5 linked regions of the Homo sapiens genome follow. The protein of the gene in region 4 interacts with the protein of the main gene of each other region in a pairwise test. Each region holds a gene or a part of one and is shown on either strand. Other genes may lie near its edges.

Evidence for each region.
Region 1: the proteins of SMYD3 (region 4) and CAMK2B interact in a two-hybrid assay, tested with the Homo sapiens proteins (one large-scale study listed by BioGRID and IntAct).
Region 2: the proteins of SMYD3 (region 4) and SHC3 interact in binary tests that used the Homo sapiens proteins (3 or more experiments, as listed by UniProt).
Region 3: the proteins of SMYD3 (region 4) and NUP54 interact in binary tests that used the Homo sapiens proteins (3 or more experiments, as listed by UniProt).
Region 5: the proteins of SMYD3 (region 4) and VANGL1 interact in a two-hybrid assay, tested with the Homo sapiens proteins (one large-scale study listed by BioGRID and IntAct).

What each region holds. Positions count from the first base shown.
Region 1 is NC_000007.14:44,221,055-44,226,097, reverse strand, and holds part of CAMK2B (calcium/calmodulin-dependent protein kinase type II subunit beta), read left to right. Parts: intron 1-206; coding exon of another isoform or gene 207-335; intron 336-784; coding exon of another isoform or gene 785-882; exon of another isoform or gene 883-913; intron 914-5,043. UniProt on the Homo sapiens protein: Calcium/calmodulin-dependent protein kinase that functions autonomously after Ca(2+)/calmodulin-binding and autophosphorylation, and is involved in dendritic spine and synapse formation, neuronal plasticity and regulation of sarcoplasmic reticulum Ca(2+) transport in skeletal muscle.
Region 2 is NC_000009.12:89,041,588-89,047,661, forward strand, and holds part of SHC3 (SHC-transforming protein 3), read right to left. Parts: intron 5,408-6,074; coding exon 5,257-5,407; intron 4,247-5,256; coding exon 4,159-4,246; intron 598-4,158; coding exon 439-597; intron 1-438. UniProt on the Homo sapiens protein: Signaling adapter that couples activated growth factor receptors to signaling pathway in neurons. Involved in the signal transduction pathways of neurotrophin-activated Trk receptors in cortical neurons.
Region 3 is NC_000004.12:76,140,899-76,146,972, forward strand, and holds part of NUP54 (nucleoporin p54), read right to left. Parts: exon of another isoform or gene 4,657-6,074; intron 3,576-4,656; coding exon 3,492-3,575; intron 3,395-3,491; coding exon 3,251-3,394; intron 1-3,250. UniProt on the Homo sapiens protein: Component of the nuclear pore complex, a complex required for the trafficking across the nuclear membrane.
Region 4 is NC_000001.11:245,921,833-245,927,906, reverse strand, and holds part of SMYD3 (histone-lysine N-methyltransferase SMYD3), read left to right. Parts: intron 1-6,074. UniProt on the Homo sapiens protein: Histone methyltransferase. Specifically methylates 'Lys-4' of histone H3, inducing di- and tri-methylation, but not monomethylation. Also methylates 'Lys-5' of histone H4.
Region 5 is NC_000001.11:115,657,865-115,663,938, forward strand, and holds part of VANGL1 (vang-like protein 1), read left to right. Parts: intron 1-1,776; coding exon 1,777-1,909; intron 1,910-5,796; coding exon 5,797-6,074.

The sequences.
Region 1 (5,043 bases), on a different chromosome or scaffold from region 4:
GACGCTCTAGCATTAGAGCTGTCCAAGTCCAGACAGCAGGGAGCAGGTGGGGATCGGGAGGCGCGGATCTGGGGGGCAGCTGGGGCCAGGCTGAAACAGAGCGGGCGGGACAGGAAGCACAGGCTGGGCAGCCTCCCCGGCCAGGGAGGAGCCAGGCTGGGCCACCTCCCGGTCTGTCTGCCGACTACCCGCAGTATCACTTACAGGGATGGATGACATCCCAGGGCTGCTGCCACCCCCACCTGTGGGGAGACACCAGACTGGGGGTGGTGTGGAGATACTCTTAGAGAAGAGGCTGCTGGGCCACGGGCTCGGCATGGCAGGGCAGTGGCTAGGTAAGTACTTGAGGGACAGGTGGGGTCTGCTTGCCACCGTCCCCTCTGCAGGCTGGGCCTGGGGGCTGCTGCAGGCGGCCAGGGCAGAAGGGTGTGGGGAGAGTGAACCCACAGGAGCAGCGGCTCGAGGAGGGGGATGCAGGCTGCAGGCTCAAAGGGGCACTGGATCCACCCTGGGTGCCCGAGAGAGCAGGGGGCAGCCCCTGGAGGGGTACTCACCCCCAGAGCTTCTGTGGTCGGCTGAGGACCCCCAGCAGGGGTTGACTGAGGGGATCAGAGGCAAGCAGCTGAGGGGAGAGGCCAGGTTCTTGATGCTGATAGGGTCGGGGTGCCTGGGCGACCAGAACTCAAGGAGGGAGGCATGGGGAGGGGCCGCCGTGCAGCTGGGGTGGGTGCACCGCAGAGCCTCTGGGAGTGGTCAGAACCCCCGACACCTGCCACTTCTACAGCAGCTCATCTGATTTTAAGGGGCTTGCTGCCCTTGCAGAAGTGGAGGGGTGTGCCCAAAGGAGCCTGCCTGGAAGGTCACCCCATCAGGTTGGCATGACCCCAGCCCAGGACTGCAGCCTGCCCTCAAGGTCTGTGCAGTATCTGGGGTGAGTCCTCTGAGGACAGGGCCCAGGGTGGGTGTGGAGTGGCCAGCTCGGGGCTCGGTGTCCAGGCTCACCTTCAGGGGCCACAGCACAGACCTGCCCTTCCAGAGTCTTCCCTGAGCTTGGCTGGGGAGGAGGGGGCTGCAGGAAGGAGCTGTGAGCAGGGCAGGATGGAGATTCGTGTGGCCCTCCTGGGAGGGGCTGGGCAGGGCTGGGAAAGGGGTGGGTGAGATGTTCCGGAACTCAGGGAAAGGAAGAGTCTGGGTACTGCCCTGGGGGCACCTGGGCCCAGGTGGCAGGTGGCCAGCTTTCTGCCTCCTTTCCACCTCCTTTCTCCAGAAGGCACCCACCAGCTGTGTAAATAGGGCAGGTGCCCACGGCCCGCCTCAGGCCCCGTCTCCTCCCCACCCACGCTCTCTAATCGCGGATTATACACAATCCAGCCTGATCCCTGGGCAGCTGCCCTCCCTCCCGCAGCCACCTCTGGCTCTGAGAGATGGGCTTGGGGCCAGCCTGGGGTCCCAGGAGTCCAGGCCAGGATGAGAACCTGCTCTGACCCCACCTGGACGCATTAGGCCTGCCTGGACCTGTTGCCTCACCCCAAGAGAGCCACAGGCAATGCAAAGGCTCCTGTTCATGTCAGGGCACCTGGAAGGCCTGACTTGCAGAGGCTCTTGGCTCGTGCAGACCCCTCCAAGCCCAGGCCCTGCCCACCACCTCCCCTTTGTCTCTGGAACTGCCAGGACAGCTTGTCCTCAGCCAGCAGGTTTCCCGACCCGGGCACCTCTTCATGTTGGGCCCCCCTCCTTTCCCTCCATCAGGGATCATGCCCTTCTTCAGGGGCCTGGATATCAAGGACACAAAAGCTCCCATGTGCTATGTGGGGAGGCAGAGTGGGGGCTGGGTTGAGCTGGGGTCTGGGCAGCGCCATTCCGCAGGGCAGGGGCAGCCTAGGCTTCCCATCTGTGGAATGGGTGGGTGGGTCTCACAACGGACCTGCTTCCCGTACTTCAGCACGGTTACCACTCTTGATTGGAACTCTGACCATGCATCTCCTCTTCTGTTTACTTCACGCTTTCTCTTCCCATCAACTCCCATTTTAATTACAATTTGTTTAAAAGCACTGCATATTACTTCATTAAACAGAAGATTAGTTTCACTTACCATTAGTGTAAGGTGACTATAGAACCAAAGCAGACTGGAAACCAAATGACATAATGTCATTCTCTTCTCCATTCCAGCTGCCTGCTGCTGTGCGCCTGAGAACCCCTGTGGAGTGGGAGGGGCAGCTGTCTCTGTACATTAGAAAGGGAGGTTAACTAAGTGACAGGAGGTGTTTGGGACATGTGGACACCAGACTTCTCTCTTGATGCAAGGAGGGCAGAGCCAGGCAGCCTAGTGGGGGCTGGCTTGGGGGCTGCTGGAAGGACTGGCTACAGGTGGAAGAGAGGTCAGACCTGAAGCTTGGGGCCACCTCCAGGAAAGGACAGGTGAAAGTGGAGGCATGAGGCAGGGGAGAGGCAGGTGCCAGGCAGAGGGTGGAGAGGAGGCAGGAACATAGCAGCTGGGGCGGGGGCGGGCCTCAAGTGTCATATGCTACTTTCCTGGGGCCCAGGGGCAAGGACAGGAACAGCCACAGCATGTGTTGGGACAGAGCCCTGTGCCTTCCTAGAGCTGGGCAGGTGGAATGGGGCAGGAATGGGACTCGTGGTGGCTGCAGCAGGAACTGGAGGGGAAGGGGCTTCTGGATCCTGCAGCCTACCTTCCTAGAGGCCAGCTTTCCGGGGTCCACCAGGTGGGTGGGAACTGGGCTTGTGTAGCAAGACTGCCCTGAGGACCATCCATGACATGGTCTAGATGAAAGTTAGGAAAGAAAGGGAGACAAGCTGGCAGCAGAAGTACAGCTGGGTCAGGAGCAAGGGCCTTTCCAGATAGGGACAACCCAAGAGTGCACATGTGCCCACGCCACACAACACAGGCACACACGACACGTGCACGCTCATAGGCACTGCACACACACATGCACAGGTGCTCATGCATATGTATGAGCTTCATCTACACACATTCACATGCCGTCCTGCTTATGTGCATGTTTCCATACATGCACATGAATGCACAATCACGTGTACACACATGCATGTGATCACATACATGAACATGTGTGCACCCCACTCCTCAGGTGCCATCGGGCTCCTCCTGCTGTCACTGTGCAGCAGGGGACATGAGGCCCCAGAGCAGACAGGTGCAGCACAGGCGTTCCCAGGCAGTGCCCCACACACATGCATGAGCACACCCGGGCATGTGGCGCCTCCTTTGTGGACTCAGTCACCTGCCAGGTGGGCTCCCTGGTGGTGTGAGCTCCCAGAGGTCTGGCGAGAGAGATAAAGGCAACCCCACCACCAGGCGTGCTGAGAATTCCCTCTTCTGGCTGGGCACAGTGGCTCATACCTGTAATCCCAGCACTTTGGGAGGCCGAGGTGGGCAGATCACTTGAGGTTAGGAGTTTGAGACCAGCCTGGCCAATATGGTGAAACCTCATCTCCACTAAAAATATACACACACAAAAATTAGCTGGGTGTGGTGGTGTGCACCTGTAGTTCCAGCTACTCGGGAGGCTGAGGCAGGAGAATCGCTTGAACCTGGGAGTCAGAGACTGCAGTGAGCCGAGATCATGTCACTGCACTCCAGCCCGGGTGACAGAGTGAGACTCCATCTAAAAAAAAAAAAGAATTCCCTCCTCTGGGAATTTAGACCACAGACAGGTTGCATGTATGTGGCCGTTGGAGGCAGCACTCACAGCAAAGAGTGGAAACGTCACCACAGGGCCTGCCTTCTGGTGAAAATGGTGTCCTGCAGGGCGGGCAGCTGTTTGAGGGCAGGTGTCCCAGGTGCGGCCTGCAGCAGCCTGAGGGTCACAGAGCGCAGTGCTGGGAGTGCAGAGACTTCCCCCACAGGGAGAGTTCCCAGGAACCTGCTTCCGGTGCACTTCTGGGGGTTTGAGTTTTTTCCACGGACGAATTACTTTGAGAAACCACTGTTACTCGTGTGTATAGGTGAGCGTGCGTGTGCATGTGTGTTCTGTGTGTGAGTGTGCATGTATGTGCGTGCCTGCGTATATATCCTCGCAGATACGGCTAGGGACCTCACTCAGGACAGTAGTTCTGCCTGAGGAGAGTGAATGCGGCAAGATTGAGGAGAACACAGGCATCTTCAAACTACATGTGCGGTGCTTTATTTCTTTAAAAATGCGTCTAAAGCAAATAGGAAAATGTTAAGATTTGAATCCGTAGAGTGTGGGTTCTATTATTCTCTCCACATCTTCCATACGTTTAAAATCTTTTGCAATGAAAATAAGCTGTAGTTAAAGCAGCAATGCAGGCTGCCAGTGAGCGCCCCGGAGGCCAGTGAGGACCAGCATGGCTGGGTGGCCTGTTGGAATCCAAGGGGGGCGGGCAGGAGCTGCAGGCAGGCGCCCGGGAGTAGCCCGGGCATGGGGGTGCGGGGCAACAGGGATGTCTGCAGGGGTAGCATGTGGGCCCCGGACTGCAAGCAGGTGGAGCCAGCCGGATGCGGCTCCTATGAGAAAAGCGGGGAACAAGAGACCACGCTCGTTCTTCCTGCTGCGGGGACAGCCCTGGTCATCGCTCCGGGGAACCCTGCAGCCTGCGCCGCACGTGGCCGCCCCCTGCTGCTTCCTCCTCCCCGGCCTCCGGGTGGCCTTGCTGACGGCTCCTTCTCTGAGGCAGGTCTCTGCCTTCTCGCCTGGTGCCTGCACTCAGTAGCCCCCTCACCAGAGCTGCTGGGTGAAGGAAGCACTAAGAACCCAAGGCTCGGGAGGAGAGTGGGGCCGGGAAGCTGCAGGGAAGCGCAGGGCCAGGCCTGGTGGGCCCAGGGGCTGGCTCACGGGAGGGCAGGAGGGAGACTGTGGCGGACAGCACGTGGGGCCAGGAGGTGACCTCCAAGTGGATTGTGGGTGGGTTTTTTGTCCTCTTTCTGCATTTTCCAGGCATTTTGTAATGTGGATAGAATATTTCTGTTCTTCAAAAATACTTTAGTTAAGAAAAATAAGATGGAAGCTGTTGCACTTGAAAATGAGGAAGCCACTGGTGATGCAG
Region 2 (6,074 bases), on a different chromosome or scaffold from region 4:
GTGTGTTGCAATTTCTTGCCTATATGTTAAATGTTGGTCTGCTTCATAGACCTAGAGATCCGTGGAAACACGGGCCATGCCATTTCATCTTTGCATCCTTAGCAACTAATACAGTAGCTGGCACATAATAGCCAATTACTATTTAAATGAATAAATAAACATTTGTGTATGTATATTGTCTCAATACATTTGCAGATCTTCAAGAGGAACGTCAATTCCAAAAAGAGGGGGAAATTGCTCTGTCTCTTGACTACAGAGAGGGCTATAATCCTAAAGCCTTAAACAAACCCAATCATCACCCAGAAAAGTACAGCTAATCATCACCATTAACCAAAACCCTACTATCAGAAAATTCAGTAATTACACAGATTTCAAATAAAAGGCAGGATAAAAAGCAACCTCAAAAGAAAAGAAAACCAGAGACAAACAGAAACCCACTCATGTCAAAGAGGTCTTTCCTTGGGCTGCTCTCAGCACTGCTGACCGCAGCCGGCCAGGCCTGTGGTGGGATCTGCTGAGTGTTGACGTAGGTGGGTGCTTCTCCCGTGGGGGCCACGTGCAGTTTCCCTTCTGGCGTGCTGTAGATGTCCGAGGACCCTGCAACAAGAAAGTGAGCCCCTTTTCTTTTACGATGGTGACACTATTCAAGCCACCCAGCCTTTCACAAAGAAGCTCTTCTGCCTGCAAATGGGAAACCTCCTCCTTCGGATTCCTATGGGTGATATTCTCCTCTTCTGAGCTTGTCACCACACACTGCTGTGACCCAGCTAGGATGTTTTCCAGTCCTTCATATCAGCATGGGGTCTGCCAGCCAATGTCAGGGTGGACACCTTGATGGCTCCACTGTGATGGCCTTAGCAAAAATTTTGGCCCTTGCTGCCCCAAGACCGCAGGAGCCTGGCAGGCAGAACATGCCTGACCTCCTCTCCTTGACAAATGCTCCAAGATCAAATAACTGAGCAGAAGGACCACAAGCCTTATATTAATTGCTCTTGTTTTCTTTTTAAATATAAGCAAATGCTTTATAAATTAACTTCATTCAAGCAATACAATAGAAGCTCTGTACCTCCTAAGGAACTGAGAGAGACTCCTTCCTTATAAAATAGGGCTGCAGTTACTGCCCCTGGGTCTGTGAAGGAAGCCCAGGGTGGGTGTGCAAGTGAAGAGCCCCCTCTGCTGAGGCAGTGATGCTGCCTCGATGTGACTTCACAGCTAGCCAATGGGTGTGCTGAGGCTAGGCCAAGGCTGTTCTGTCACCGAGACCTAGTGTGAAAGACCTAGTGCCTTGACAGGACTTCACAGCTAGCCAGTGGGTGTGCTGAGGCTGGGCCCGGGCTGTTCTGTCACCCAGACCCTGGGTGAAAGTGACACCCAGACCTAGTTGCCGGAGAACGCCTGTTCAGATCCTTCTCGGAGTCTTTTTGTGTGTGCGCCCTGTCTCCAATCTTCTTACGTAAACATGTTCGCAAGAACACCCTGTGGTATTCACATTTCTGGAAAGAGGGTGTCTTTCATACCCTATGGGCGGTGGTGTGTTGAAGCCAGCTCAATCCAGCTGGCAGGAGTTGGTTCAGGGCTTTTTAAAAAGCGTTCCCAAGAGCCTGTGGCTGGACATTTGCCAGCACACCACTGTCTCCCAGGCTGTAGGTGTGAGAATGAAGTGTCGTGCTAACATTCCCTCGCTGGGGAGCACCACCTGCAACATCATGGACTGTGTTTCTACTCTCCTATTTCTCAACATGCTTTCTACATTGAAGAGTCTAGTCAGATTACGCATCCTTGCTTAGTGACAGCTATTTGCAGTTTACACCTTTGTGTACATTGCAAACGAATCAGCCTTTAGAAAAGAATTTCATTAAAAAATTTTAAAAGGAGAAGATCAAGAGCCCAAATGCATAATCTTCCTGACTGCCCTTTCCCACCATAGATGACAACAGGTGCTGAGCCGGGGCAGGAGGACACGTGCCATCGTGATACCTGGAGTTCACTTCCATTAGGGACAGTATCTGCCAGCAAATTAATAAGTGACATTCTAATTTGTTATGTGAGAAAAGATATTTATTTATTTTTTTTTTTTTTTTTGAGGCAGGGTCTCATTCTGTCACCCAGGCTGGAATGCAAGTGGCATGATCTCGGCTCACTGCAACCTCCACCTCCCAGGTTCAAGCAATTCTCCTGCCTCAGCCTCCCGAGTAGCTAGGATTACAGGTGCCCACCACCATGCACAGCTAATTTTTTGTATTTTTAGTAGAGACGAGGTTTCACCATGTTGGCCAGGCTGGCATCGAACTCCTGACCTCAGATGATCCACCCGCCTCGGCTTCCCAAAGTGCTGGAATTACAGGCGTGAGCCACCATGCCCTGCCTATTTATTGTTTTCAAAGAAGAGCTGGAAATTTATTGAGAGCTCTGAGTCTCAAGTTCCAGGCCAGGAGTTCATTCTGCGACATCATCTGTTCTCGATCTGGCTGGAATAACTTGAATATATCAAAAACAAGGCCTATTTTAAAATAAACCTGATATATTTTACAATAAAGTAAATATCTAAGGGAAATAATGTGTCTCCTTTATTCTTTAGCAGTTATTATATGTCTATGCACACACATGTTATGGAAATGCATTTTAAATGTGTGTAGAACAAGGATAAATAGCCCATAATGAAAATGTCCCTCTGGCAAAGTTATGACTCTGATTTGCTATTTCCAGCCTATTCTGAGGCAGAACATGTGGTGGCTTCTGCCAGGCCTTATGTTTTATTGACTGGGCCAGCACTGTGGGTCTTCCTGCATCTGGGGCAGGCGAGACGAAATTCTCTTACACAGAGGACATTTTAAAAATGTATTGTCATTTGCTTCCTGGCATAAATAGCTATAATGAAGGAATAAGCCTCAACATTAAACCAATAATGTTTAAATTTAGATACATAGAAGCATCAGTTGCATCCATCCCCTTCAGATCTTATAGACTTAGTAGCCAGGATCCCAGAGCTAGTGAAAGAGTTATAAATGTTTTTGAGAAGGGAAAAAGGTTAAAATTAAAAGACATTCTTAAAGGATTAGATTGAGATATGAATACATTCATACATATTTGTATGTGTATATATAACTGTCTAGAGAATAAAGACTTATGTGAGCAATTAGCAGTTACTTCTTAGATAGTTGTATCTAAATTATGATGGCTGTATCTAAATATATTTGAATTATTTGCAGATATCTGACTTATAGACAGTTATATCGACATTAGTTTTAATGTGTGATGTAGGTGCATATTATGATTGTAAGATGCAGAAGTGTTCTCTGAGAGTATCCAGGGCCTGTGAGAGACGTATATCCCTGGTGCCACCTCTGCCTCAATCCCCAGCTTAGAGTAGGGGGCTTCACATCCCCCCTGAAGCTGACCCTGAGTAAAGGGAAGGAGAACGAGACAAGGAAGGAAAGGCAACAATTTGTTGTAGGAGTCACGGGGGCTCAACCTCCACCTTAGAGTTGCCTCACCAGTTCCCATAGGAAACTGGGGTGAAGTATGCCTGAGATGTCAACTTCTCAGCACCCCTGGGCATGGAAGCTCTCCCAGCATGGAGGTGTACAGTCTCAAGGGCATGAGGCAGTGACTGCAGACGGGGTGTGAATGGTCCTGGAGCTGCAGGGAGGCACTATCTGATTGGTGCCAGGAGATGTCTGCAACACTGTTGCTTTTTTTTTTTTTTTTTTGAGATGGGGTTTTGCTGTTGTTGCCCAGGCTGGAGCGCAATGGCATCATCTTGGCTCACTGCAACCTCCACCTCCTGGGATCAAGTGATTCTCCTGCCTCAGCCTCCTGAGTAGCTGGGATTACAGGCACCCGCCACCACACCCGGCAAATTTTTTTATTTAGTAGAGTTGGGGTTTCACCATGTTAGGCTGGTCTCGAACTTCTGACCTCAGGTGATTGTCCCGCCTCAGCTTCCCAAAGTGCTGGGATTACAGGCGTGTGCCACCGCGCCTGACCACACCGTTGCTTCTATTTCTATAGTCTAGTCAGGATTCTATAGCAACACACACAGCACATATATCCAGGGGTCACTCTGTCAGTCCACAGAAAATAGGCGACCCAGTGGTGAGCATGTTACTTTTGAAAAGTGTCTTTTGTGTTTCTCACCCATCTCACCTTGCCTCTCACCTTGCCTTAAAGGTGTTTGCTGCCAGTCTTCGCCAAAAGTGTCTCCTAAGTGTCTTCCCTGGTAATAAGTCTGCTCTTTTCCTGCAAACTATAGACACATGTAAATACACAGAATGAAAAAATTATTTTCTTCTCATTTCACCACTTTTGAAAGCCACAAGACAGTCGGCGAGTTGATCCTTAAGGTGGTTCGCATCCTCTGTTACACCCAATTTTCCCTTCATGCCTCATGGTTGGCATTAAGATTTGGGAAATAAGTTTGTGTGGGTGTGAGGAAAAGGCTGCATCTCCATCAAAACTACACATGCCCCCCCGCTTGTTTTCATTACCCCCCCCACCCCTCCCGAAGTGTGACTGTAAATCAAGCTCTTCCATATGTATGTCCTAAAATAAATTTCAATTACAGAGTATCTATGTGTCAGAACACACTTCCCACATAACACATACGCCCATGATCGTTCACACTTGGTCAAGTCCACTCTGTAAACCAGGAAATTTCCTTCAAAAAATCAGGAAATTCCCTCTCAGTGTCAGATCCCTGAGCTCAACGTTATTTTGCCATTTTTAGTGGTGTCATTATCATTCACATAAGGTAGTAACGTTAAAAAATTTCCTATAACAAAACAGAAATATCATAACTCTAGAAAGCAATTGCCTTACTAGAATTTTGAGTTGGACATAAAACAAGGGAATGAATAAAATAGAAAACTCATAAAATTCTCATCATTTTAAGCGTCTATATTCACTCCTTTTCAGAGAACCCAATGCCTCCCAAGCCTTTTTAAAATCTTAAATTCTCTCTTTCCCTCACTGAGATCACAGTATGATGGAATATGTCTGAGGGTACAGAGGACACCCCCAGACTCATATCCCAGGAATCACCACACAGTTCCAAAGCATTTGGCCAATGCTTTATGATGTTAACCCAAAGCCTCTCTTCATCTGCATGCCTCATGAAATCCAGTGAGAGAAAGCTCATGATTTACTGTGTCAAAAATGAAACAGAACATCAGCCTGAAATAAAACCAAAGAAAACAAAAGGAAATAAAGTAGAGTTAGCCTCCATTCCTTATATAAGAAAAAAACTATAAGACTTACCTGGGCTGTGTCAGGAGCATGGGGTCTGGGTTTCAGTCTAGTATCAAGAAAGCCCCCTGGAGGAGGCATCTTGCTTGGGATGCTGTTGTAGTATGGGTGGTCTGAGCCATCTCCCTCCTCTTCCGTCCATGGCTCATCCAGACTCTGCATTCTGTTAAAGGAAGATTTCCAAGGGCTTTAGCCAAAAGTTGAACTTGCAGCCAAAATCAACAAATCTAATGTTAGCGCCTGTTATTAAGAAAAGAGAGTTTAGTCAGTGCCTCCTCAGCCATCCAGGTCTCATGCATAGATGAAAAGCAGATGAGTGGTTTAGCAAAATATCTCTGCCATATTCAGAGTTTCACTCATTGGAACATTTCAATCATGTTTGAAGGATGTCCTTTTGTAAAAGTACATTTTAATTAAAAAAGAAATTATGCCTAAGGATAGCCAGCTCCTCAAGGGACAGCACACATTTTTGTAAGCCATGAAATTGATCCCAAACAAAACCAACTACAAAATGGAAATTTAGTGATATGAGGGAAAATGGTAGAATATGAACCTCTCAAAATTCTCCCTTCTGCTATTTGAAAAAACTGTTGTGCTTCAAAGGACATTATCAAGAAAGTAAAAATACAAACTACAAAATGGGAGAAAATATTTGCTAACATGTATCTTAAATGAGACATGTATCTAGAATATATAAAGTACTCGTACGACTCAACAATGAAAAGACAACCCGATCTTAAAAATGAGCTGAGGATTTGAGCAGACTTTTCTCCAGAGATACACAAAAAGCCAATACATGCATGAAAAGTTCCTCAACATCGTTAGTCATC
Region 3 (6,074 bases), on a different chromosome or scaffold from region 4:
ATATAGAAATGGAAGGCCATGGAATCTAAGCTAGTTAGAGTAGTGAAGACAGAAAGAGCTAACAGAGCAGAAAGTATCAGTTGTCGAAAGATCCAACAGTCTTCTGAAGGATCCTCGATAATCCATGCTTTGGCTTGGAAAGGACTTCTGGCGGTTGTCACAAAGTCAAATGTGACTTTTCCCCTTGATTCACAGGTATTGCCAACTGAGATAGGAATAGCTGTGATTAGTAAAAGGGAGCTAATAAGTATGAGGAATACATGGACGGGCATCTCTATACTGAGATAGGACAAGCAGTGGTCCTAACAATGCTGCTCGCTAATTTATGGTCAAAATCCTACTTGGCTTGGGGATAGGAGATGGCAGCATTTAAGTGTTAGTGTTTCTAAGAGTTTTGTTCTAGTACTCTCCTCTTACTCTGGAATCAGGTCTCCTAAATTACATCATCCATATCTACCACTTTAAATACTACTTACGTTCTGATGGCTTTCATAAATATATACAACTACCCAAGGGACACCTCAAACTCATTATCTACCCACAAACATCTGCTCTTGCTTTAGTATTCTGGATCTTAGTGAAGAGCAAGGGATCCTTCAGTTACGCCACCCAGAAGCCCAAGATACCTTTATCCAGTCATTCGCTTTTATTGATTCTACAAGTTAAATCTCTCTCAAATTCACATCCTGTTTTTTCTCTCCATTCTTAACTGTCACTGCCTTAATTCAGGTCTTCACTATATCTTGCTCAGATTTTGGCAACAGCTTCACCAGATCTCTGCCTCCATTCCAACCCACCTATAATCTATCTTTGTATTTCTCTAAGAGATACTTCTAAAAATCTGATTATTTTCCTGTCTACTTAATCCTACAACAGTTTAGAATTGCTTAAAGGACAGCTCCTTAGTAAAACATATAAGGCACGCTAATAATCCAATTCATATCTATCTCTCCAACTCTCACTACTGACCCTGAGGTCATTTATGCATTAAAAAAACTGCACTGATCTAGTTATACTGGTCCCAAAGGCATTATACTCTGCCATAAACCATGCCATGTTATTTCCTCTGCGTGGATACCCTAGAATCTCCTTGACTATGAGCAAGGATTGTGGTCTTCAACCTTGTACACCCAATGCCTGACATACGATATATACAATAAATGGATATTACATAACAAAATGAGCCCCTTTCAATTTTAAAATAGCACCAGATTCAAATTCCCATTTTCCTAAAAAAACCAAATGTAACTACAGTTACTCATAGTTGGAGAGACTTTATTTCAAGAAACAAAGGAAACACTTCACTTTTGCTGTTCTTTCCTTAACTACTTAAATATTTCATCAAATTTTGTATTTTTGCAGGATTGTAGAAAAGACGAATGACTGGAATACTTGAAAGAATAATTCTGAGAATACTATTCTATTATCTTCATCCTACTGTTAGGCAATCCTTGAAATTCATGTTTAATAAGTTAATAACTAATCTTCAGTGACTGAGTAGGATGAATTTTAGCTAGTCAATCAAGTTACTTAAAAAAATGAAACAGAAGTAATTTTAAGAGGCATCAGATTGGAAAAGTGAAAAGAGCACTAGAATGAGTAGTTGAATTTGCATCCCTGTACTTCTTCTAGAGAGGTATACAGGTAAGTCACAATCTCTCAGGTTCCTCTCTTCACCCATAAAATGGGGATAACAAAAGTATTATTTCACAGGGTTCTTGTGAGAATAAGTTAATCCATACAGAACAACCCCTGGAACCTACTGCCATACCACCTAGTAAGGATGGTTAGTAAGGAAGCCATCAAAGACTAATAACCAGACTGTCTCAAAGGGACTTGGGAGCCAACTTGAAAAGGCTTGCACTGGCCAAAGATGTAACAATTTAAGCATCAATAAGAATGGTAACTGCAATGGATTAAAAAATAGTAACTAGTTTAAAGGCTGCAGTTTCTGACATTAAAAAAAAATTGGTCATCTTTGGAGAATGCTAGATAACCAACTCTTTATTCTGAAAACCAGTAATAAAGAGAAAGAATCAACCAAACAGATGAAGTCAAGTTTCTCCTCACAGAAGTATTTCAACAAATAAATGAATCCAGGTGGAATGGCACTATTTGTAACCCCTAATGAATTAATGGATCTAGGTAATGATCACCAATGGCTCAATGGCTGATCACTCAAAAAAAAAAGATATTATATGTCTTCTGATAAAAAATAGGCCTATAAAATAGTCTTGCAAACAAACAACAAAACAACAAAATATATATATGTACGCCCCAGATCTAACCCAATCATCAAGAAATACAGAGAACAAAGGAATGTGTTAAACTATACCATAGGCGTGCAATCAGAAAAGTCTTGACTAAAAAACTCTATAGGATAAATGATCTGTTTTCTTCAACAAATTAAAAAATAAAAAAGAGAGGCCAGGCGCGGTGGCGCACACCTGTAATCCCAGCACTTTGGGAGGCCGAGGCAGGCAGATCACGAGGTCAGGAGTTCCAGACCAGCCTGGCCAATATGGTAAAACTCCGTCTCTACTAAAAATACAAAAATTAGCTGGGCGTGGTGGTGTGCGCCTGTAGTCCCAGCTACTCAGGAGGCTGAGGCAGAAGTATCGCTTGAACCTGGGAGGCGGAGGTTGCAGTGAGCCGAGGTCGTGCCACTGCACTCCAGCCTGGGCGACAGAGCAAGACTCCGTCTCAAAAAATAAAAAATAAATAAAAAAGAGAGATAAAAGAGGAGCCTATGGAGATTTAAGACAGGCAAAACCAAATACTGTTTACATACTTGAATGACAAAATATAAAGTAAGAAAATGATCACCATAAAAGCCAAGACTGCAGGTCCTCTGATGGGGAAGCAATTGGTAGGGAAATGTGGTAGGCTTCTGAACTGGCTGGCCAGGAACCATCTCCTGACATGGGCAGTGATTACAAGGGTGTTAACCTTTGTAAACTTATATATAATTCATTAAGCTGTACTTTTGTGCAGTTTCTCTATTTGTTATTTTTAACAACAAAAATTTAAATGGAATGATCCTAAACACAGGGACCTTATAATCCTAACTGTGCCAATCAGTGTTCTCCCCAGTTGCTATCATATTTAAACATGAAAAGTAACATTCCTAATCCTTTGGAATATATTAATAATTCTTATAAAAAGTCCACTAAAGTATTCTGAATGCACTCAATAATGTCAGCTAGTATCATCACGGTTTTGTATTTGAAGCTGAAAACCTCATACTTACTAGTTTGCTGCTGCTGCTGTGTATTAAATCCTCCAAATCCCAGTCCAGTTCCCAAACCAGTACCTAAACCAGTACTAGTTCCCGTTGTTGTGCCAAAACCAGTACCAAATCCAAAACCTTTGTTCTGAGTACCACCAAAGAGTCCTTTGAATGAAAAATTGGAACTTCGTAAGTTAAAAAAAAAAAAAAATCTGACCTCTACTTCATTTACTTCTATGAATGACTTAAGATGGCCTCTTACCAGTAGTGCCTGTGTTAGTTGGGGCAGAAAAGCTGAATGCAGAACCTGCAGTTGTAGATGTTGTCCCAAATCCTCCAAACCCACCTAATTAAAAAAGAACAAAAATAGAAAGGAAGAATCTTTTGTATATATAAAGGCAACTTCTTTTTAAAATTATTTTATAATTGCTACATATAAAATCAAAATATATTGATCTAATTTTTCCTTTCCCTACTTTCAAGATCAATTTTTTAAAAAACTATACTACCAATCAAGAAGTCAAAATGTTACAAGAAATGAACTAAGCATTTAAAATAGAAATATCACAATGTAATATATACCCTTCAATTAAAGGGGTGGTTAACAGTTACAGCTGAGAAAACACATTAAGCCTATTGCCATAATTCTAAAATGACTATGTATGTACTTTTAGAGGAGGTGTTGCAAATTCATATGCCTAGAAGATTTAGACTGATAACAGTAAAGAGTAAAGTAGACTATGTGTTTACTGATAGGTGGAACTGTTTAAAATGAATAGTTTTTTAGATCAGCAGTTCCTAAATTCCAGCAGATACAAGAAAGGTAGTTTAGCAGTGTCACATATTCCCATTTTTTACCCCAAGAGAAACAGGAAATCTGGATTTTCTATGTAAAATTTATTGGTTTTTGGCTGGGCGCGGTGGCTCATGCCTGTAATCCCAGCACTTTGGGAGGCCGAGGGGGGTGGATCACAAGGTCAGGAGATCGAGACCATCCTGGCTAACACGGTGAAACCCCGTGTCTACTAAAAATACAAAAAATTAGCCGGGCGTGGCGGCGGGCGCCTGTAGTCCCAGCTACTCAGGAGGCTGAGGCAGGAGAATGGCGTGGACCCGGGAGGTGGAGCTTGCAGTGAGCCAAGATCTTGCCACTGTACTCCAGCCCGGGCGACAGGGTGAGACTCCGTCTCAAAAAAAAAAAAAAAAAAAAAATTTATTGGTTTTTAAACCCTAATTCAACTACTTTTTTTTGCAAGGAATTCAAATGTTTTGAAAACAGCATGCCAAACATATCACATTGGCAGACTTGTTGCCAGTTAGCAACCTTGGTTTTGGTGAATTAATTTATGTCTAAATTAACTTATATTTCTACTTAGTCTCTGTCAAGACTAAGTAACTTTTCAAAGGAAGCATACCAATATACTTACCTCCAAACAACAAGAATGTGTTTCTTGAAGGAAGAGATTTGACAGATAAATGGAATGCTAGCCAATCTAAAATTGTTTTGTTATTTTTGTAACTTATTGTCAGTCTTCAGCTGATTACCAATGTGGTATCAAAAAGCCTTTCAAGACAAATGTTTGAACCATTAGTGTCGAATTATATTGCAGATTTTTTGGAATCTTCCTTTAATCTCATTTATTTCTGGTATACAACACAGATTCATCAATATTGCAATATAGAAAATACAAGAAGAAAAACATGCAACCATTTTATATTAATCACCTCATTCTGATTTGGAAAACTACTCAAGAGTAAGCTGCATGTTGCATGCAGGCACAACTAAATATTCTATTTACTTGTAGGTTCTACTGCAGTACTGCAAACTATAAACATTTTCATAAAAGTCACCCACAGTACTAAGCACTGTTGTAATTTCTTTTCATTATTCTTCACTTCCATAGAATAACTATGATATAATCTGAATTGGCTACGCAATAGAAACACTAGTCAGTTTCTCATCATGCTCCACAACATCAAAAATGTTTTAGTAATAGCAGATCTGCAAGTATACAAAATAAAAAGTAAACAAGAAAGTCTATCAGCCCTTTGCTGAAGGTTAACACATATAAAAGTAGTTAAAACATATTACATTATCATAACTCAAAACTTAACAGTGATAACTCCAAATGAACATGAAATCAAGCAAATACCAACAAGTTTATTTATTGTTGTTGAATTATGAGCTGGGTGGCTTTATTCAGAAACACAAATTTCAAAGTAAGATTTCTGTTTTACCCAGTGCCAATTTTAAGCAAACAAGGAAAAGTAAACACATCAAAGGACAGTGATATGTGATTACTTCGAATACATCTTAATTAAAATGCATCATCTTGTCTTTGAAGTTTTCAAATATTCTTCGAACTGTTTTCAACTCAGATGCTAGGGTGATAATCACATTGCAGTAACCAGTGAATGAACAAAATAACAAACTTCCCAATTAACTTTTAGGGAGTAAATAATGTTTATCAAATGCATATAATTGGCATGGGCACAAGAGGCATAACGTAAGAGACTATGGACGATAAATTCATATACGAGCAGCTGAAGAACAAGTTTTTTTCTACAGTGTCACTATGTAAAGTACCCATAAACCTATTTTAAATGTATATATCATTATTGTTTTGCAAAATTTCTAATGAGCTGCAAACAACCCACGTGCATATGAAAATCTTCATAATTATCTTTTTGAATGCAAAGACGTCTAGCTTACCTTTTAGAATTCGATGCTATATCACATAAAACTAAACTGCTCTCTTTGAGCATTTCCCAAAATTCCAGCAAAGAACTGGGGATTCTTTCTATAATTACAAATCTTATAGAAATTACACATCTTATAGTATCC
Region 4 (6,074 bases):
CTGGCCTTCTTTCCTATCAAAGACCCTCTCAGCTCGGCCCGTCCCTAAAACTGATTGTGCCTGAGGGGACAACTTTTCATTGTCCTTCTGCCAGTGAGAGTATTTGTAGTTCAGTCACCTCTCCCCAGCAACCTATCCTTTCTTCTCCCAAATTACAAATGGGCTAATTTTTTAGGGGAGAGGTCACCATATTTCTGGATGATGACAGTTCCTGTCCTGTGTGTGAGAGAGAGAGGAGTTTGTGTATGACAGAGGGTGTGTGTTTTATGCACACACAGGGAATTCATGAAATCTCCTCAGTGGCAACAGCTGAGCAGCCTCTCATATCCTTCCGTGGGCAGGGGGGGGCATCCCAGCTTGTGAGTGGGATCCCCAAGACTTCTTCACTCGGAAGGCCACTGGCTACATTGAAGGTAATGATGCATGTTAACTTTGTGCTAGTAAAGCAAACAGCTTATACTGTCTCAGGCTGACATTGGGACTTGACAAACCCATCAGCATCTCTGGGTGATCATTTCAGCAAAGATGCAAAGGGAATAGAGGACAGGGAGGATGACCTCCAGCAGTGAACTGGCCTTGACCCCTCCAGTTTGACAGACTGTCCAGCCAGCCTCTTTTGGTGCAGAACCTTCTTACAAGACAGCTGCAAACGGGCTGCTCCAGGGCTCTGAACCTAAGCTTGCACTGGTTTGCACAGTGACTACCCATGCTGAGTTCTGAGTTACAGATATTTCTACTTTCCAGAACCCCGTTTCCTTCTCCTTTCCAATTTGCTAAAGTGGATATTTATTGCAAGGAAAACAGTACTGAAAGCTTTTATTGCATTTATGCAGCACTCAGCCAATAAAACCTCAACTCAGAGGTACCATATTTTATGTAGACAGGGATTTGGCTTTGACAAGATTCTCCCCAAACTGATTTTCAGTGGAAGGAGCCACTTCTTATACAACTACTCGCTAAATTTCCAGATTTTAGGACCAGTGTATGAAATATACTGGGATAGATGTCAGTGAGATGGACAATGTAGTTTTTTCTCTTTTTTTTCTGGGGCCGCAAAGGACTTCAAGGCAGGTAAGAGATGAAACCGCTATCTATTTTCAGCAATATTCATTTGGGGGCTGAAGAGCGGCTGCTGCTGTTGTCGATGATGACGATGTTTTTGCAAATTAAAAAACAAACCAAGTAACTTGACAAAAGCAATTAGAGTTGGTTGGAATTTTCAGAAACAACAAAGAAAGTTTCTTCTATTTTCCTAGGCTCGGCTGCCAGTCATTCTCCCGTGGTTGCTTTTCATTTAGTTGAATAAGACACCTTGTCTTTAGGTGCTGCTTTCACTTTTTCACATCTTTCTCTTTCCATCTCTGGAGCAACAAGCAAATCCTCCCTCTTGCCAAATACGAGACATTTCCACTCAGTGTAAAGCCCTTCAGACTCAGATATTTTTCCCTGTGGTACTTAGCAAGGCATCTTCTCAACAAAAAGAAGGTTCTCCCCACAAGTCCTTCATATATACCAGTTTAAGAGAATAAACATTTCTCCATTCCATTTTGTAGGTCTTGCTGAACAGTGTTTCCCCTGATTCATCATCGTTTCTGTCCACTGTGTCTCTTTGTCTTAATGTTATATGCCCTTCGAGGCTGTTTGTTATGATTTAAACATGTCCCCCAGATTCCATCTGTTGAAAACTTTATCCCCAAATTCTTGCTGATGCTTTGTGGAGGTGGAGTCTTTGGGAAGTAATCCAGATTAGATAAGGTTATCAGGGTGGGAACCCCATGATGAGATTGGTGGCTTTATAAGAAGAGGACACTCCTGCTGCCACCTCATGTGACGCCCTCTGCCATGTTATCAGGCAGCAAGAAGGCCCTCCCCAGATGCCGGTGCCATGCTTTTGGCATCATGCTTCCCAGACTCCAGAACTGTGAGAAATTTATTTATAAATTACCCAGTCTGTGGTATTCTGTTAAAACAGCAGAAAATGGACTAAGATACCCTTTCAATCACATCTCTTGTGTAACTCTTTCCCTGATTTCCCATATTAGAAGAAGTTCTTTTCCTTTGAGTTCTCGCTTATAGTGGTTATTAATACATTTTTGGCACATATTATGGCTGTTTTGGAGACCTCTCTATTTAGAGCTTTATGAGGACAGACAATCGTGTCTTATTTCTGTATCTCTTAGCACTTAGCTTTGCATCCAGGAGGCATTTGATAACTTTTTGTTGAATCGACTCTCTATTATATTGAGCTTACTCTAATGACCGGCAGTATTTCTTGTGGGGACACTATTGCCATTTTGAATGGGACAGTTCTTCATCGTGTGGGATTGTTGCATCATTGGAGAAGACTTGTGTCCTTGGCGTGTGCTTAACTAATGCCTGTAGCCATCCCCCAACAACTAAAATATATCCTATGCCTTTCAAACTGACCCCTTGGAGCAGAGGTAGGGGAGAGGGAGAGCCATGAGAAAAGACAGTTTGAGGCATTGATTAAGCAGGGTAATTCCTATTTATTGTACAAATATTAGCTTTAAATTAAGGAATAAATCTAGACATTTTGTGTTCCCAACATACAAAAATGGTAAATACATGAGGTCGTGGATAACCTAAATACCATCACTTGATCATTACACATCGTATGCAGGTAGCAAAATAGTACCTGGACCCCATAAATATGTATAAATATTATGTATTAATTTTTTGAAAGTTAAAATTCCTTGGGAAAAAATTTTAGACATTTTGGTAATTTCCTATCATGAACTTTGCATTTGGCTTTAGTGCTCATTAGGGCACCCACAGTTTTAATATGAGCTATTTGGGATCTGAGTGTCAGAATATGGGATTCACAATGGAAGACTCAACAGCAACTGAGGCAGAAGTTCCTCAATCAACATTTGTTGAGTAAATTAATGAGACTTCTTAAAGATAAAATAAGAGCTGGAATAGGGCTGGGCACCGTGGCTCATGCCTGTAATCTCAGCACTTTGGGAGGCTAAGGGAGGTGGATCACTTGAGGTCAGGAGTTTGCATCCAGCCTGGCCGACATGGTGAAACCCCGTCTCTACTAAAAATACAAAAAATTAGCCAGGTGTGGTGGCGCACACCTGTAATCCCAGCTACTGAGGAGGCTGAGGCAGGAGAATCGCTTAAACCCAGGAGGCGCAGGTTGCGGTGAGCCAAGATCGCACCATTGCACTCCAGCCTGGGCGACAGAGTGAAACTCCATCTCAGAAAAAAAAAAAAAAAAAAAAAAAGCTGGAATAGAGTCTCAGACATTTACAAATGACTGGCAGTCCTCAGTGGTGTCCCATGGCTCCTGAAAGGAAGGGAATATGAAAGCCAGTCTACTGCCAGTTTAAGATGGGAGCATTTCAAACCTCACACAAGGAGAGCTGGAAAATTGCACAAGGTCTGTGATAACAGAAGTTGCCATGGAAATTTCTCACCCCATGTTTCTCTCTATATAAATCCATCCTTTGGACCCTCTTTGGACAGTTTCCTTGCAAACCAGCAACATTTATAATACTTTGCTATTTAAGGCTCTCCATTGTAATGCTGAGTTATTGGGTCTTTTTTTTTTATTTGACTTTGGATTTTTGTCTCCTCATTCAGCCGCCTCCTACAGAGAGAGATGTGTAATATCATTTAAGTCATGGCTCACTTGACTGGATTGCTGATGGCTACCTTTTCAAAATTATCTTAAATATGAGATTCATTTGTTCTGATAGTTTTATAAAACATGGATCAGGGAGGAAAGCTGGGTAGGCCAAAGCAGTCTTATGGTAGTTCCTGGTTAAAATAACTTGTAGCTGTTACAAATAATGCCATTGGCTGCCAGCATTCTCTGGCGCCATATCAACTGGGAGAAATGTGATTGACACAAGTTGAATGCATTAGTATCCCTAATGTCAGTCTTAATCTGATGTCTTTTGGGATTAAGACAGTCTGTTTCTTCTGTTAGTCATCTTATTTGCTAAACCATTAAACGAATTCACTGCATGTTTACTGGATGTCAGGAGTTGGTAGCAGTTTTAGAAACCTTCTCTAATACAAAGATTATTAAGACCCAGCCCTGACTTCAAGAGTTCAAGGTATAGTTGAGGAAACTGACAGAGAACAGAAAACAATAATAGAATTAAGATGCACAGTGGTGTAAATGGGCACAGGCTTACAGCAGCTCAGAGCAGGAGCACTCGAGTGATTAGTAAGGGGAGGGAGTGGAGAGTGGTTAAGGAATGCTTCCAGAGGACTGACTCCTAGACTCTGAAAGGATCCATGGAGTTAGAGTTGGATGAGGCTGGAAAAGGCATTGTAGACATAGACACAGAGGCCAGGGACAGAATGGTGAGTTCAAGGAGTAGGAAGCAGTTCTCATCAATAGACGACGAAAGAATTTAGATGTGACCCGAATTTGAGGGAAGATGTAGGGATCAGACTGACAAACCCCATGGGAGCCTTATCACAGACCTTGGTTTAGCTGAAGGTTTCATAACATTGGCTGGTCTATAGGAGGCGCCCAGTAAATATTTGTGTAAGGGAGAAGGACGAGCAGCGGGACATGATTGAAGGGTTTCAGCAAAGGAACTGCGTGGCCAGATTTTCTTGTTTTTTTTTTCCTGCATGTTTACAAATGTTACTGTTTTTTATTGTATGTACTATACATAAAACACTTGAAGAAAACAATTTTTAAAACCCCACCCAATTCTAACCCCTGAGTTAGATTTGGGATATCACAAACGAAACATTTTACTCAGTGTACATTCAATTTTACCTCAGTCACTGTTGCTGTAGTGTGAGTTTTTCTCAACTCGTTGAACCATATGATTGAAACGTGATGTTTCCTTTGCCTTTCATTCACTTTTTGTATATACGACCATGGCTATGATGATAGGGAATATTTATAGGGTGATTCAATTTAGGAAGCAATAGATGAAGCCTAATAGGTAAAAACAAAAAACAAAACCCAAGGACTACAAAATTGAGTAAGACCTAAGTAGTCTGTACCATCTTTGGAATCTTAGAAAACTCAGATAATGTTACATATTCATTTTTTTTATTTTATGGAAGAAAATGTAAGGTTTAAACTGGGAAATGATTTGTTCAGTGCTACACTTACTACTACGCAGTGTGGAGGGGGTTAGTAATAAAGCTTCATTCTCAGGATTGAAGTAACAAATTATTTACCTAGGACAGTGCCCAGCACATGATGCTTACTACATAGTGATTTTCTTCTTCCATTTGTGATTAGAGTTTCCTGAAGGGAAAAGTAGAGCTCAAATGGTGAGTGTCCAAAAAAAAAATATGACATTAGAGATTTCTCATAAATTGTGGAAACATATTTAGAGAATCTATCAAAACTATAGTAAATCTCATCTTACGTATCAAAGCAGAATAATTGGTCTTTGGTGGAGGTGGTCTGGCTGATGTTTGGACTCGGCAAGAAAGATTGCTACAACTGTTGAATAACATTTGGTTTGTGTATAGAAGTGTTGGTCCATGATGACATCTACACAGATTATTTTCCATTCTTAAATTAACATTTTCTATAGGCAGTCTTTGTTCTAATACATGCTCCTCTGAAATTGAAGCTGAAAGTGTTATGACCAGTTTCACTTTAAATGAAGGTACCTTTAAGTCTGAAATGAGCCGGTGCTTTCAGGTTTAGGCTGTTGAATACAAATACATACAAGTTTGATTTTTGTTTTTGGCTTAAGATGATAAAATTACTTTTAACGGGGTTTTATTAAATTATATTCAATAAATAACTAAATTGTGATTTCACAGTTAAATTCATTATAAAAGTCCCTGCCCCATTCTTAAGAATGGATAAGTGTAAAAGAAATGTAATTTCATTTACCTTTTGAATTAAGCTAAAAGAATATTTAGTAACCTAATTGTGATTTTTAAAAAAATAATTTCAACTTTTATTTTAGATTCAGGGGGCACATGTGCAGCTGTGTTGCATGGGTATATTGCATGATAGTGAGCTTTGGGGTGTGATGAATCCCATCACCCTGGTAGTGAACATGGTACCCAACAGTTTTTCACCCCTTGCCCTACCTCCCTCTCTAGTAGTG
Region 5 (6,074 bases), about 130 Mb from region 4:
AGTAGCAGGCACATCACATGGTGAAAGCGGGAGCAAGAGAGACAGTTGGGAGAGGAGGCGCCACACACTTTTAAACAACCAGATCTCCCAAGAACTCACTCACTATCGTGAAGATAGCACCAAGCCATGAGGGGTCTGTCCCCATGATCCAGACACCTCTCACCAGGCCCCACCTCCAGCACTGGGGATTACAATTGAGCATGAGATTTGGGTAGGGACAACTATCTGAACTGTATCAGCAATAGAGTGTGATTATAAGTTATGCTGTAGGAATAGAATTGTTGTCACTGAAAGATTCCCTTGGCCATGGGAGCCTCCTGGCTCTATGAAGGAATCAGCCAATGCTTATCCCAGGGAGGTAATGATAAGGTCGAAGTTTGACAAGAAATCTACGTTTTCTTAAGCTAAGTAGTAGGTTAACAGAAGATATGTTGTGTGTTAATAGTTCTATTTACATCTCTTTCTCCAAGGTTATACACACTCTGCATCACTAAGTCAAGACACCATTCTTTGACACTGGCTAATAGTAATAGCAATCATAGCCACTGTGCATTAGCACTTACTCCACATCCTTGTACTGAGCACTACTTACATTATGTGGTGTTGTCATTGTCACCATTTCATACATAAAGAAACCAAGGTTTTCAGAGATTGAATAACTTGTGCAAGATCACACATCTGGTAGGGCAGATCCAAGATCTGTTTGTCTCCAAAATCTGCTTCTGTCCTGCCTGGGAGACCTTGGGAATGACGGCAAGTGGTTGTAGGAAGGAGGGCTGATGTCAAGGTGGCTGTGGGGGCAGGAGGCTGAGGGAACTCACTGACCCTTGAGGGACTCCTTAGGTGGGGGATTCTGGGTTTCCTGTTGGCAGCTGGAGGGGGAGTGCCAGTTCCCATAAGTGGTTATTGCCCAGGTTGTGACCTTGGCTTGGCCAGTGATTGGTTCATTTTGGAATTTCATGAGTGACCCCCAGGCAGGGTTCTTACAATCACGCTGGAAGACCACCCAGGAAGTTCCTGTGGGGTAAAATGATGCAGCAGCCTGCTTTCCTCAGGAGGTCTGAAACCCTCCCCATGTACACACACACACACACACAAACACACACACATCCACCCACACACCCTCCACCCCTCTTGGTGTCTTTGGCCTTTTTTCCTAGCTTGTTTGTTTCTATGGGTGTCTTCAAGTTCAACTAGAACCTATGGGAATGACTTAGTTTTGAACCTGTAAGAATGAGAAGTAAACAATTCTTTGTACTGACTTTGAATTTCCTTTCTTCTGTTGTCCAAAGGTGAAGGGTGACAATGTGTCCCAGATTTTTTTGGATATTCTACAAAAAAATAGATATTTTTTTGTAGAAAAAAGCTTATTCTACAGTGTTGTCCCAATTTTAAAAGCCCTAGAAAACTGGTTAAGGCAAATTATAACCAAATCAAATCACTAATTATTACAATAAAGTGTAACTAGCTACAAAAATCCTAAAATTACAATTTTAGGCTTTGAGAAAATATCACTGATGATAGAGGAAGAGTGACAGTCTTTGTTTTGGGTCTTGGGATGGCAGAAAGAAAATATTTAGTAGGGAGTAAAGATCAGTGTACCCCTTGAAGTGTGGTGAAGATGGGTGGGTTTTGATGCTCTGTGTGTGTGTGTGTGTGTGTGTGTGTGTGTGTGTATGTAGAATTTCCCTAAATTCAAAATGATACTTACATTTTGATAAACCCAGAGAGTTAATTAACATGGCATAAATGTGCTAGCTCATTGTTGTTTTTCAGGGAAAGAACTAGAGAGAGACACAAGTCACCCCGGAATAAAGACGGCAGAGGGTCAGAAAAGTCTGTCACCATTCAACCTCCCACTGGAGAGCCCCTGTTGGGAAATGATTCTACTCGGACAGAGGAAGTTCAGGTAAGGATCAAAGGTGGTCTGTAAGCACACTGCCACTTGGCCAAGACTCCTGTCTGTAAATGTTTTCCTTAGGTTCTCTTGGATTTTTGTCTTTATTTTTCTAGCATGCTAATTAGTTTATCTATGTCCCATGGTCTCTTGTTGGTCTAAGGACAGCCTGTCCTGCCCTTTGGTAGCGTGGGGATTCTTCTGAAGTATGATTGGTTGGCCTGCTTTACATGGTGTGGAAAAGTAGCCAGCAAGGTTGACGACAGGGTTGGGAAGGGAAAAGCTGAAGTCTCCCACGACTCATTTCAAAATGGAACAGTATAAGGGGGAGAAGGAAACTCAGAAAACCTAAGAAGTTTAAAAAACATGGGGCAGCCCAGACTGACCATTACTACTAGAGCTATGCAGGAATTGAGAGGCCGCACGCTCAGATGCCTGGTAGAGAAACGTAAGTTAATTAAGGAGGCCCTGGGTCGAAAAGAGGGGGCAAAAATATATTAACCTAGCTTTGGGTTAACAGCAATCTGTGCAGTGCCTCAGTGTCAGTGCTGTAGTGTGGTGTGAAGGAGCCTATGGCTAACTGGAGAATGCATTTCCTCTGTAAAGGAAACAGCAGCTCCGCAGCTCCAGACACCTACTGTTGCTCAGGAATGCAGGGATTCATTGTTTGAGAAAAGCTGCAAATCAGGATTTTATGTGGAATCCTAACTTTACAGTATTTTTGAAATACTGATACTTTATTAATTTTTTTGAACCATTGAGTGGGTTCTTCTCCAGGTTCCAACTGTCTGGCAGCCCACCTGATTTAAATAAACATCTGAGCTATACACAGAAACATGTCTGCATACCCTCTGCACATCCTGAAGTATATATACACATGTCCAGCCTTGCCCCTCATAAACAAAGTGGTGTATGATACACAGCTGTAAAGATAGATATAGGACTATAGATAAGCATACATCTGTACATACCTGTGCATACACACAGGTAAGCATTTATAATCAAATAGGTGGACTGAAACTGGAATTCCTCAGAGTACACAAGGTGTTCTTGGGACACAAAACTACAATTGTGGGTTGAACGTGGGATTCATTGAGCAATGAGCAAATGCCTTTAGTGCTGCCTGCCTTGGCTCTGGGATGGCTGATGGTCGGATGGGGCCAGTCTTAGGATTGGATCACCCTGGAGTACTTGAAGGGGTCAGTTTCCTCCTGGATGTGGGTTCAGAGGTGCCAGTGGCCTACAGCAAAGGCTCTTCTTTCTCTGCATCTCCTCTGCACCTCGTAGCTGAGAACACTTTGAGAAGCTCTTGGTGTTGCCCCAGGATGATCTGGTGTGAAAAGCATTGAGATGGGTGTTTGGAGGCTGTATTTTTTAGTAGCTCTGTTACCTTGAGCAGTCACAGCCTTTGTAGGCCTCAATTTCTTTATTGAAAATCTAGGGGTTTTGATGAAAGCATCTTAGGTGCTTTTTCTTCTAAGAACCTGAAGCTTAACAGGATCCTTTGTGTATCTACATGTTTTAGGCATACATGTGCACCCCAGGAAATTCTCTCATGCCCTTTCTAGTCAATCTCTGCCCCACCCTCACCTCTCCAAGGCAACCACTGTGTTGATTTCTATCACTGTAGATCAATTTTGCCTGTTTTTGAATTTAGTATAATTAGAATCATATGGTCCATCTCCTGCCCCCACCCACCCGCCCTGCTTAGCATAATGATTTTGAGATTTATCCATGTTTTGGTATGTTTCAACAGCTTATTCTTTTTATTTTTGCTGAGTAGTATTCCATTGTATCAGTCTACCACAATTTGTTATCCATTCTCCTAGTGGATGGACATTTGGGTTTTTTTTGTTGTTGTTTGTTTGTTTTTTGAGGCAGAGTCTTGTTCTGTCGCCCAGGCTGGAGTGCAGCGGCATGATATCACCTCACTGCAGCCTCTACCTCCCGGGTTCAAGCGATTCTCCTGCCTCAGCCTCCCGAATAGCCGGGATTACAGGCACGCACCACCACGCCCAGCTAATTTTTGTATTTTCAGTAGAGATGGGCTTTCACCATGTTGGCCAGGCTGGTCTCGAACTCCTGACCTCAGGTGATTTGCCTGCCTTGGCCTCCCAAAGTGCTAGGATTACAGGCGTGAGCCACCGTGCCTGGCTGGATGTATATTTTTATTAATTTTTGGATAAAACCTGAGAGTGGAATTGCTGGGCCATATAGCTAAGTGTATATTTAGATTTATATGAAACCGCCAGAGTGGTTTTCCAGAGGCACTGTACCACGGTCCACTTCCACCAGCAGTGTTGGAGAGTCCTGGCTGCTTCTGGCCATCGTCTGAAATAGGAATTTCTCTCACTGTAGGTGATACTTCTGACTTTGCAAGTTGAAGGATTATTAGTTTATGGGATTGAGACCTTCACCACCACCGCTTCTTACCATAGCCCATACATTTCATAAATCATGGTTTTTTTGGTCATTACTAGATTCGGAGTTATTTGATGATGAGCGATGTCTGTCTTGCTGATTTAGCTACTAACTGAAACTAGCTTTTTCTAAGTTGGTGTCCTAATTTCACCCCCTTTGCCACTGCATCTGACTGTTTTCTTTCCGAGTGAAAGGATACATACAAATTTCAGAGGCAGAAACCTCTTTGGCCTCCTGTGTCTTTTCAGCGCCTTGCTCTTATTGCTTCATTATTGTTGCCAGTTGTTTTTAAACAACAAAATCCTTTAAAATTCTATCAACTGGGTTTTGCTAAGTGAATAGACTAATTGCTTTAACTAGCAACGGCCTAGAAGTTTAAAAAGAGAGGAAGCTAGAAAGTAAAAGATAACATTTTAATAATCCTGGTTGTTTCTATGCCCTTGATGTTTAGTTCCTCGTGAAAACATGTTTTAGAAAGAATTTTTAAGCCAATCTGGCCATACACGGATTCCTGGATTTGCTTAGCTTGGTCCATGAGAAATATTGTTAAAGAGTGCTTGACACTGATGCTTGTTAAGTGGATCTTGTGAACATCATAAGGAGATTTTTTTTTTTTTTTTTTGAGACGGAGTCTCACTCTGTAGCCCAGGCTGGAGTACAGTGGCACGATCTCAGCTCACTGCAACCTCCGACTCCCGGGTTCAAGCGATTCTCCTGCCTCAGCCTCCTGAGTAGCTGGGATTACAGGCATGTGCCACCACGCCTTGCTAATTTTTGTATTTTTAGTAGAGACGGGGTTTCACCATGTTGGCCAGGATGTTCTTGATCTCCTGACCTCCTGATCCGTCCGCCTCGGCCTTCCAAAGTACGGGGATTACAGGTGTGAGCCACCGCGCCCCAGTCCATAAAGAGATTTTAAAATGTGGGTCCTAGCTACAGGTAAGCTTGGGTTTGTGTAGTGGTGTAAGTTCCCTTGCTACGCCCTTTGCTCTTCTGGGCTGCTAGAGGGTGTAGTAATACTCCCACCTCCAAAAGTTGGACTTCGTAAGCCTTTATAACCCAGCGTGAATTGGAAAGAAGATGCAGGAGGTTTATCTCTATAGATGAGCTCTCACAAGATTAGTCTAATACCTGGGTTGCGCATTGCAGGGCAAACAGCTCCAGGCCCTCAGAGCTGCTCAAGGCTTTTCAACCCAGGGGATGATAATCAATGTTATGTCAATGAATCAGCCAAACAGACAGAAAGATCACATTATGTTTTCTCTGTTTGAAAAGGTAAATACCTCATACATTTTGAAAATTTCAATGAAAATCGTTTGAGTTAAGAAGTTCTAATATTTAAAGAGTTAAGCTTTCATTTTCTGGAAGCCTTTGTGAATAGGGCTGGGTAGATGCAGCGGGCCCTGCATGTTCACTGCCCTTTGTAGCTTTTACAAATGACCTGTGTCATGTCATCCTCACTGTCTTCTCCCCACCAGGATGACAACTGGGGAGAGACCACCACGGCCATCACAGGCACCTCGGAGCACAGCATATCCCAAGAGGACATTGCCAGGATCAGCAAGGACATGGAGGACAGCGTGGGGCTGGATTGCAAACGCTACCTGGGCCTCACCGTCGCCTCTTTTCTTGGACTTCTAGTTTTCCTCACCCCTATTGCCTTCATCCTTTTACCTCCGATCCTGTGGAGGGATGAGCTGGAGCCTTGTGGCACAATTTGTGAGGGGCTCTTTATCTCCATGGCATTCAAACTCCT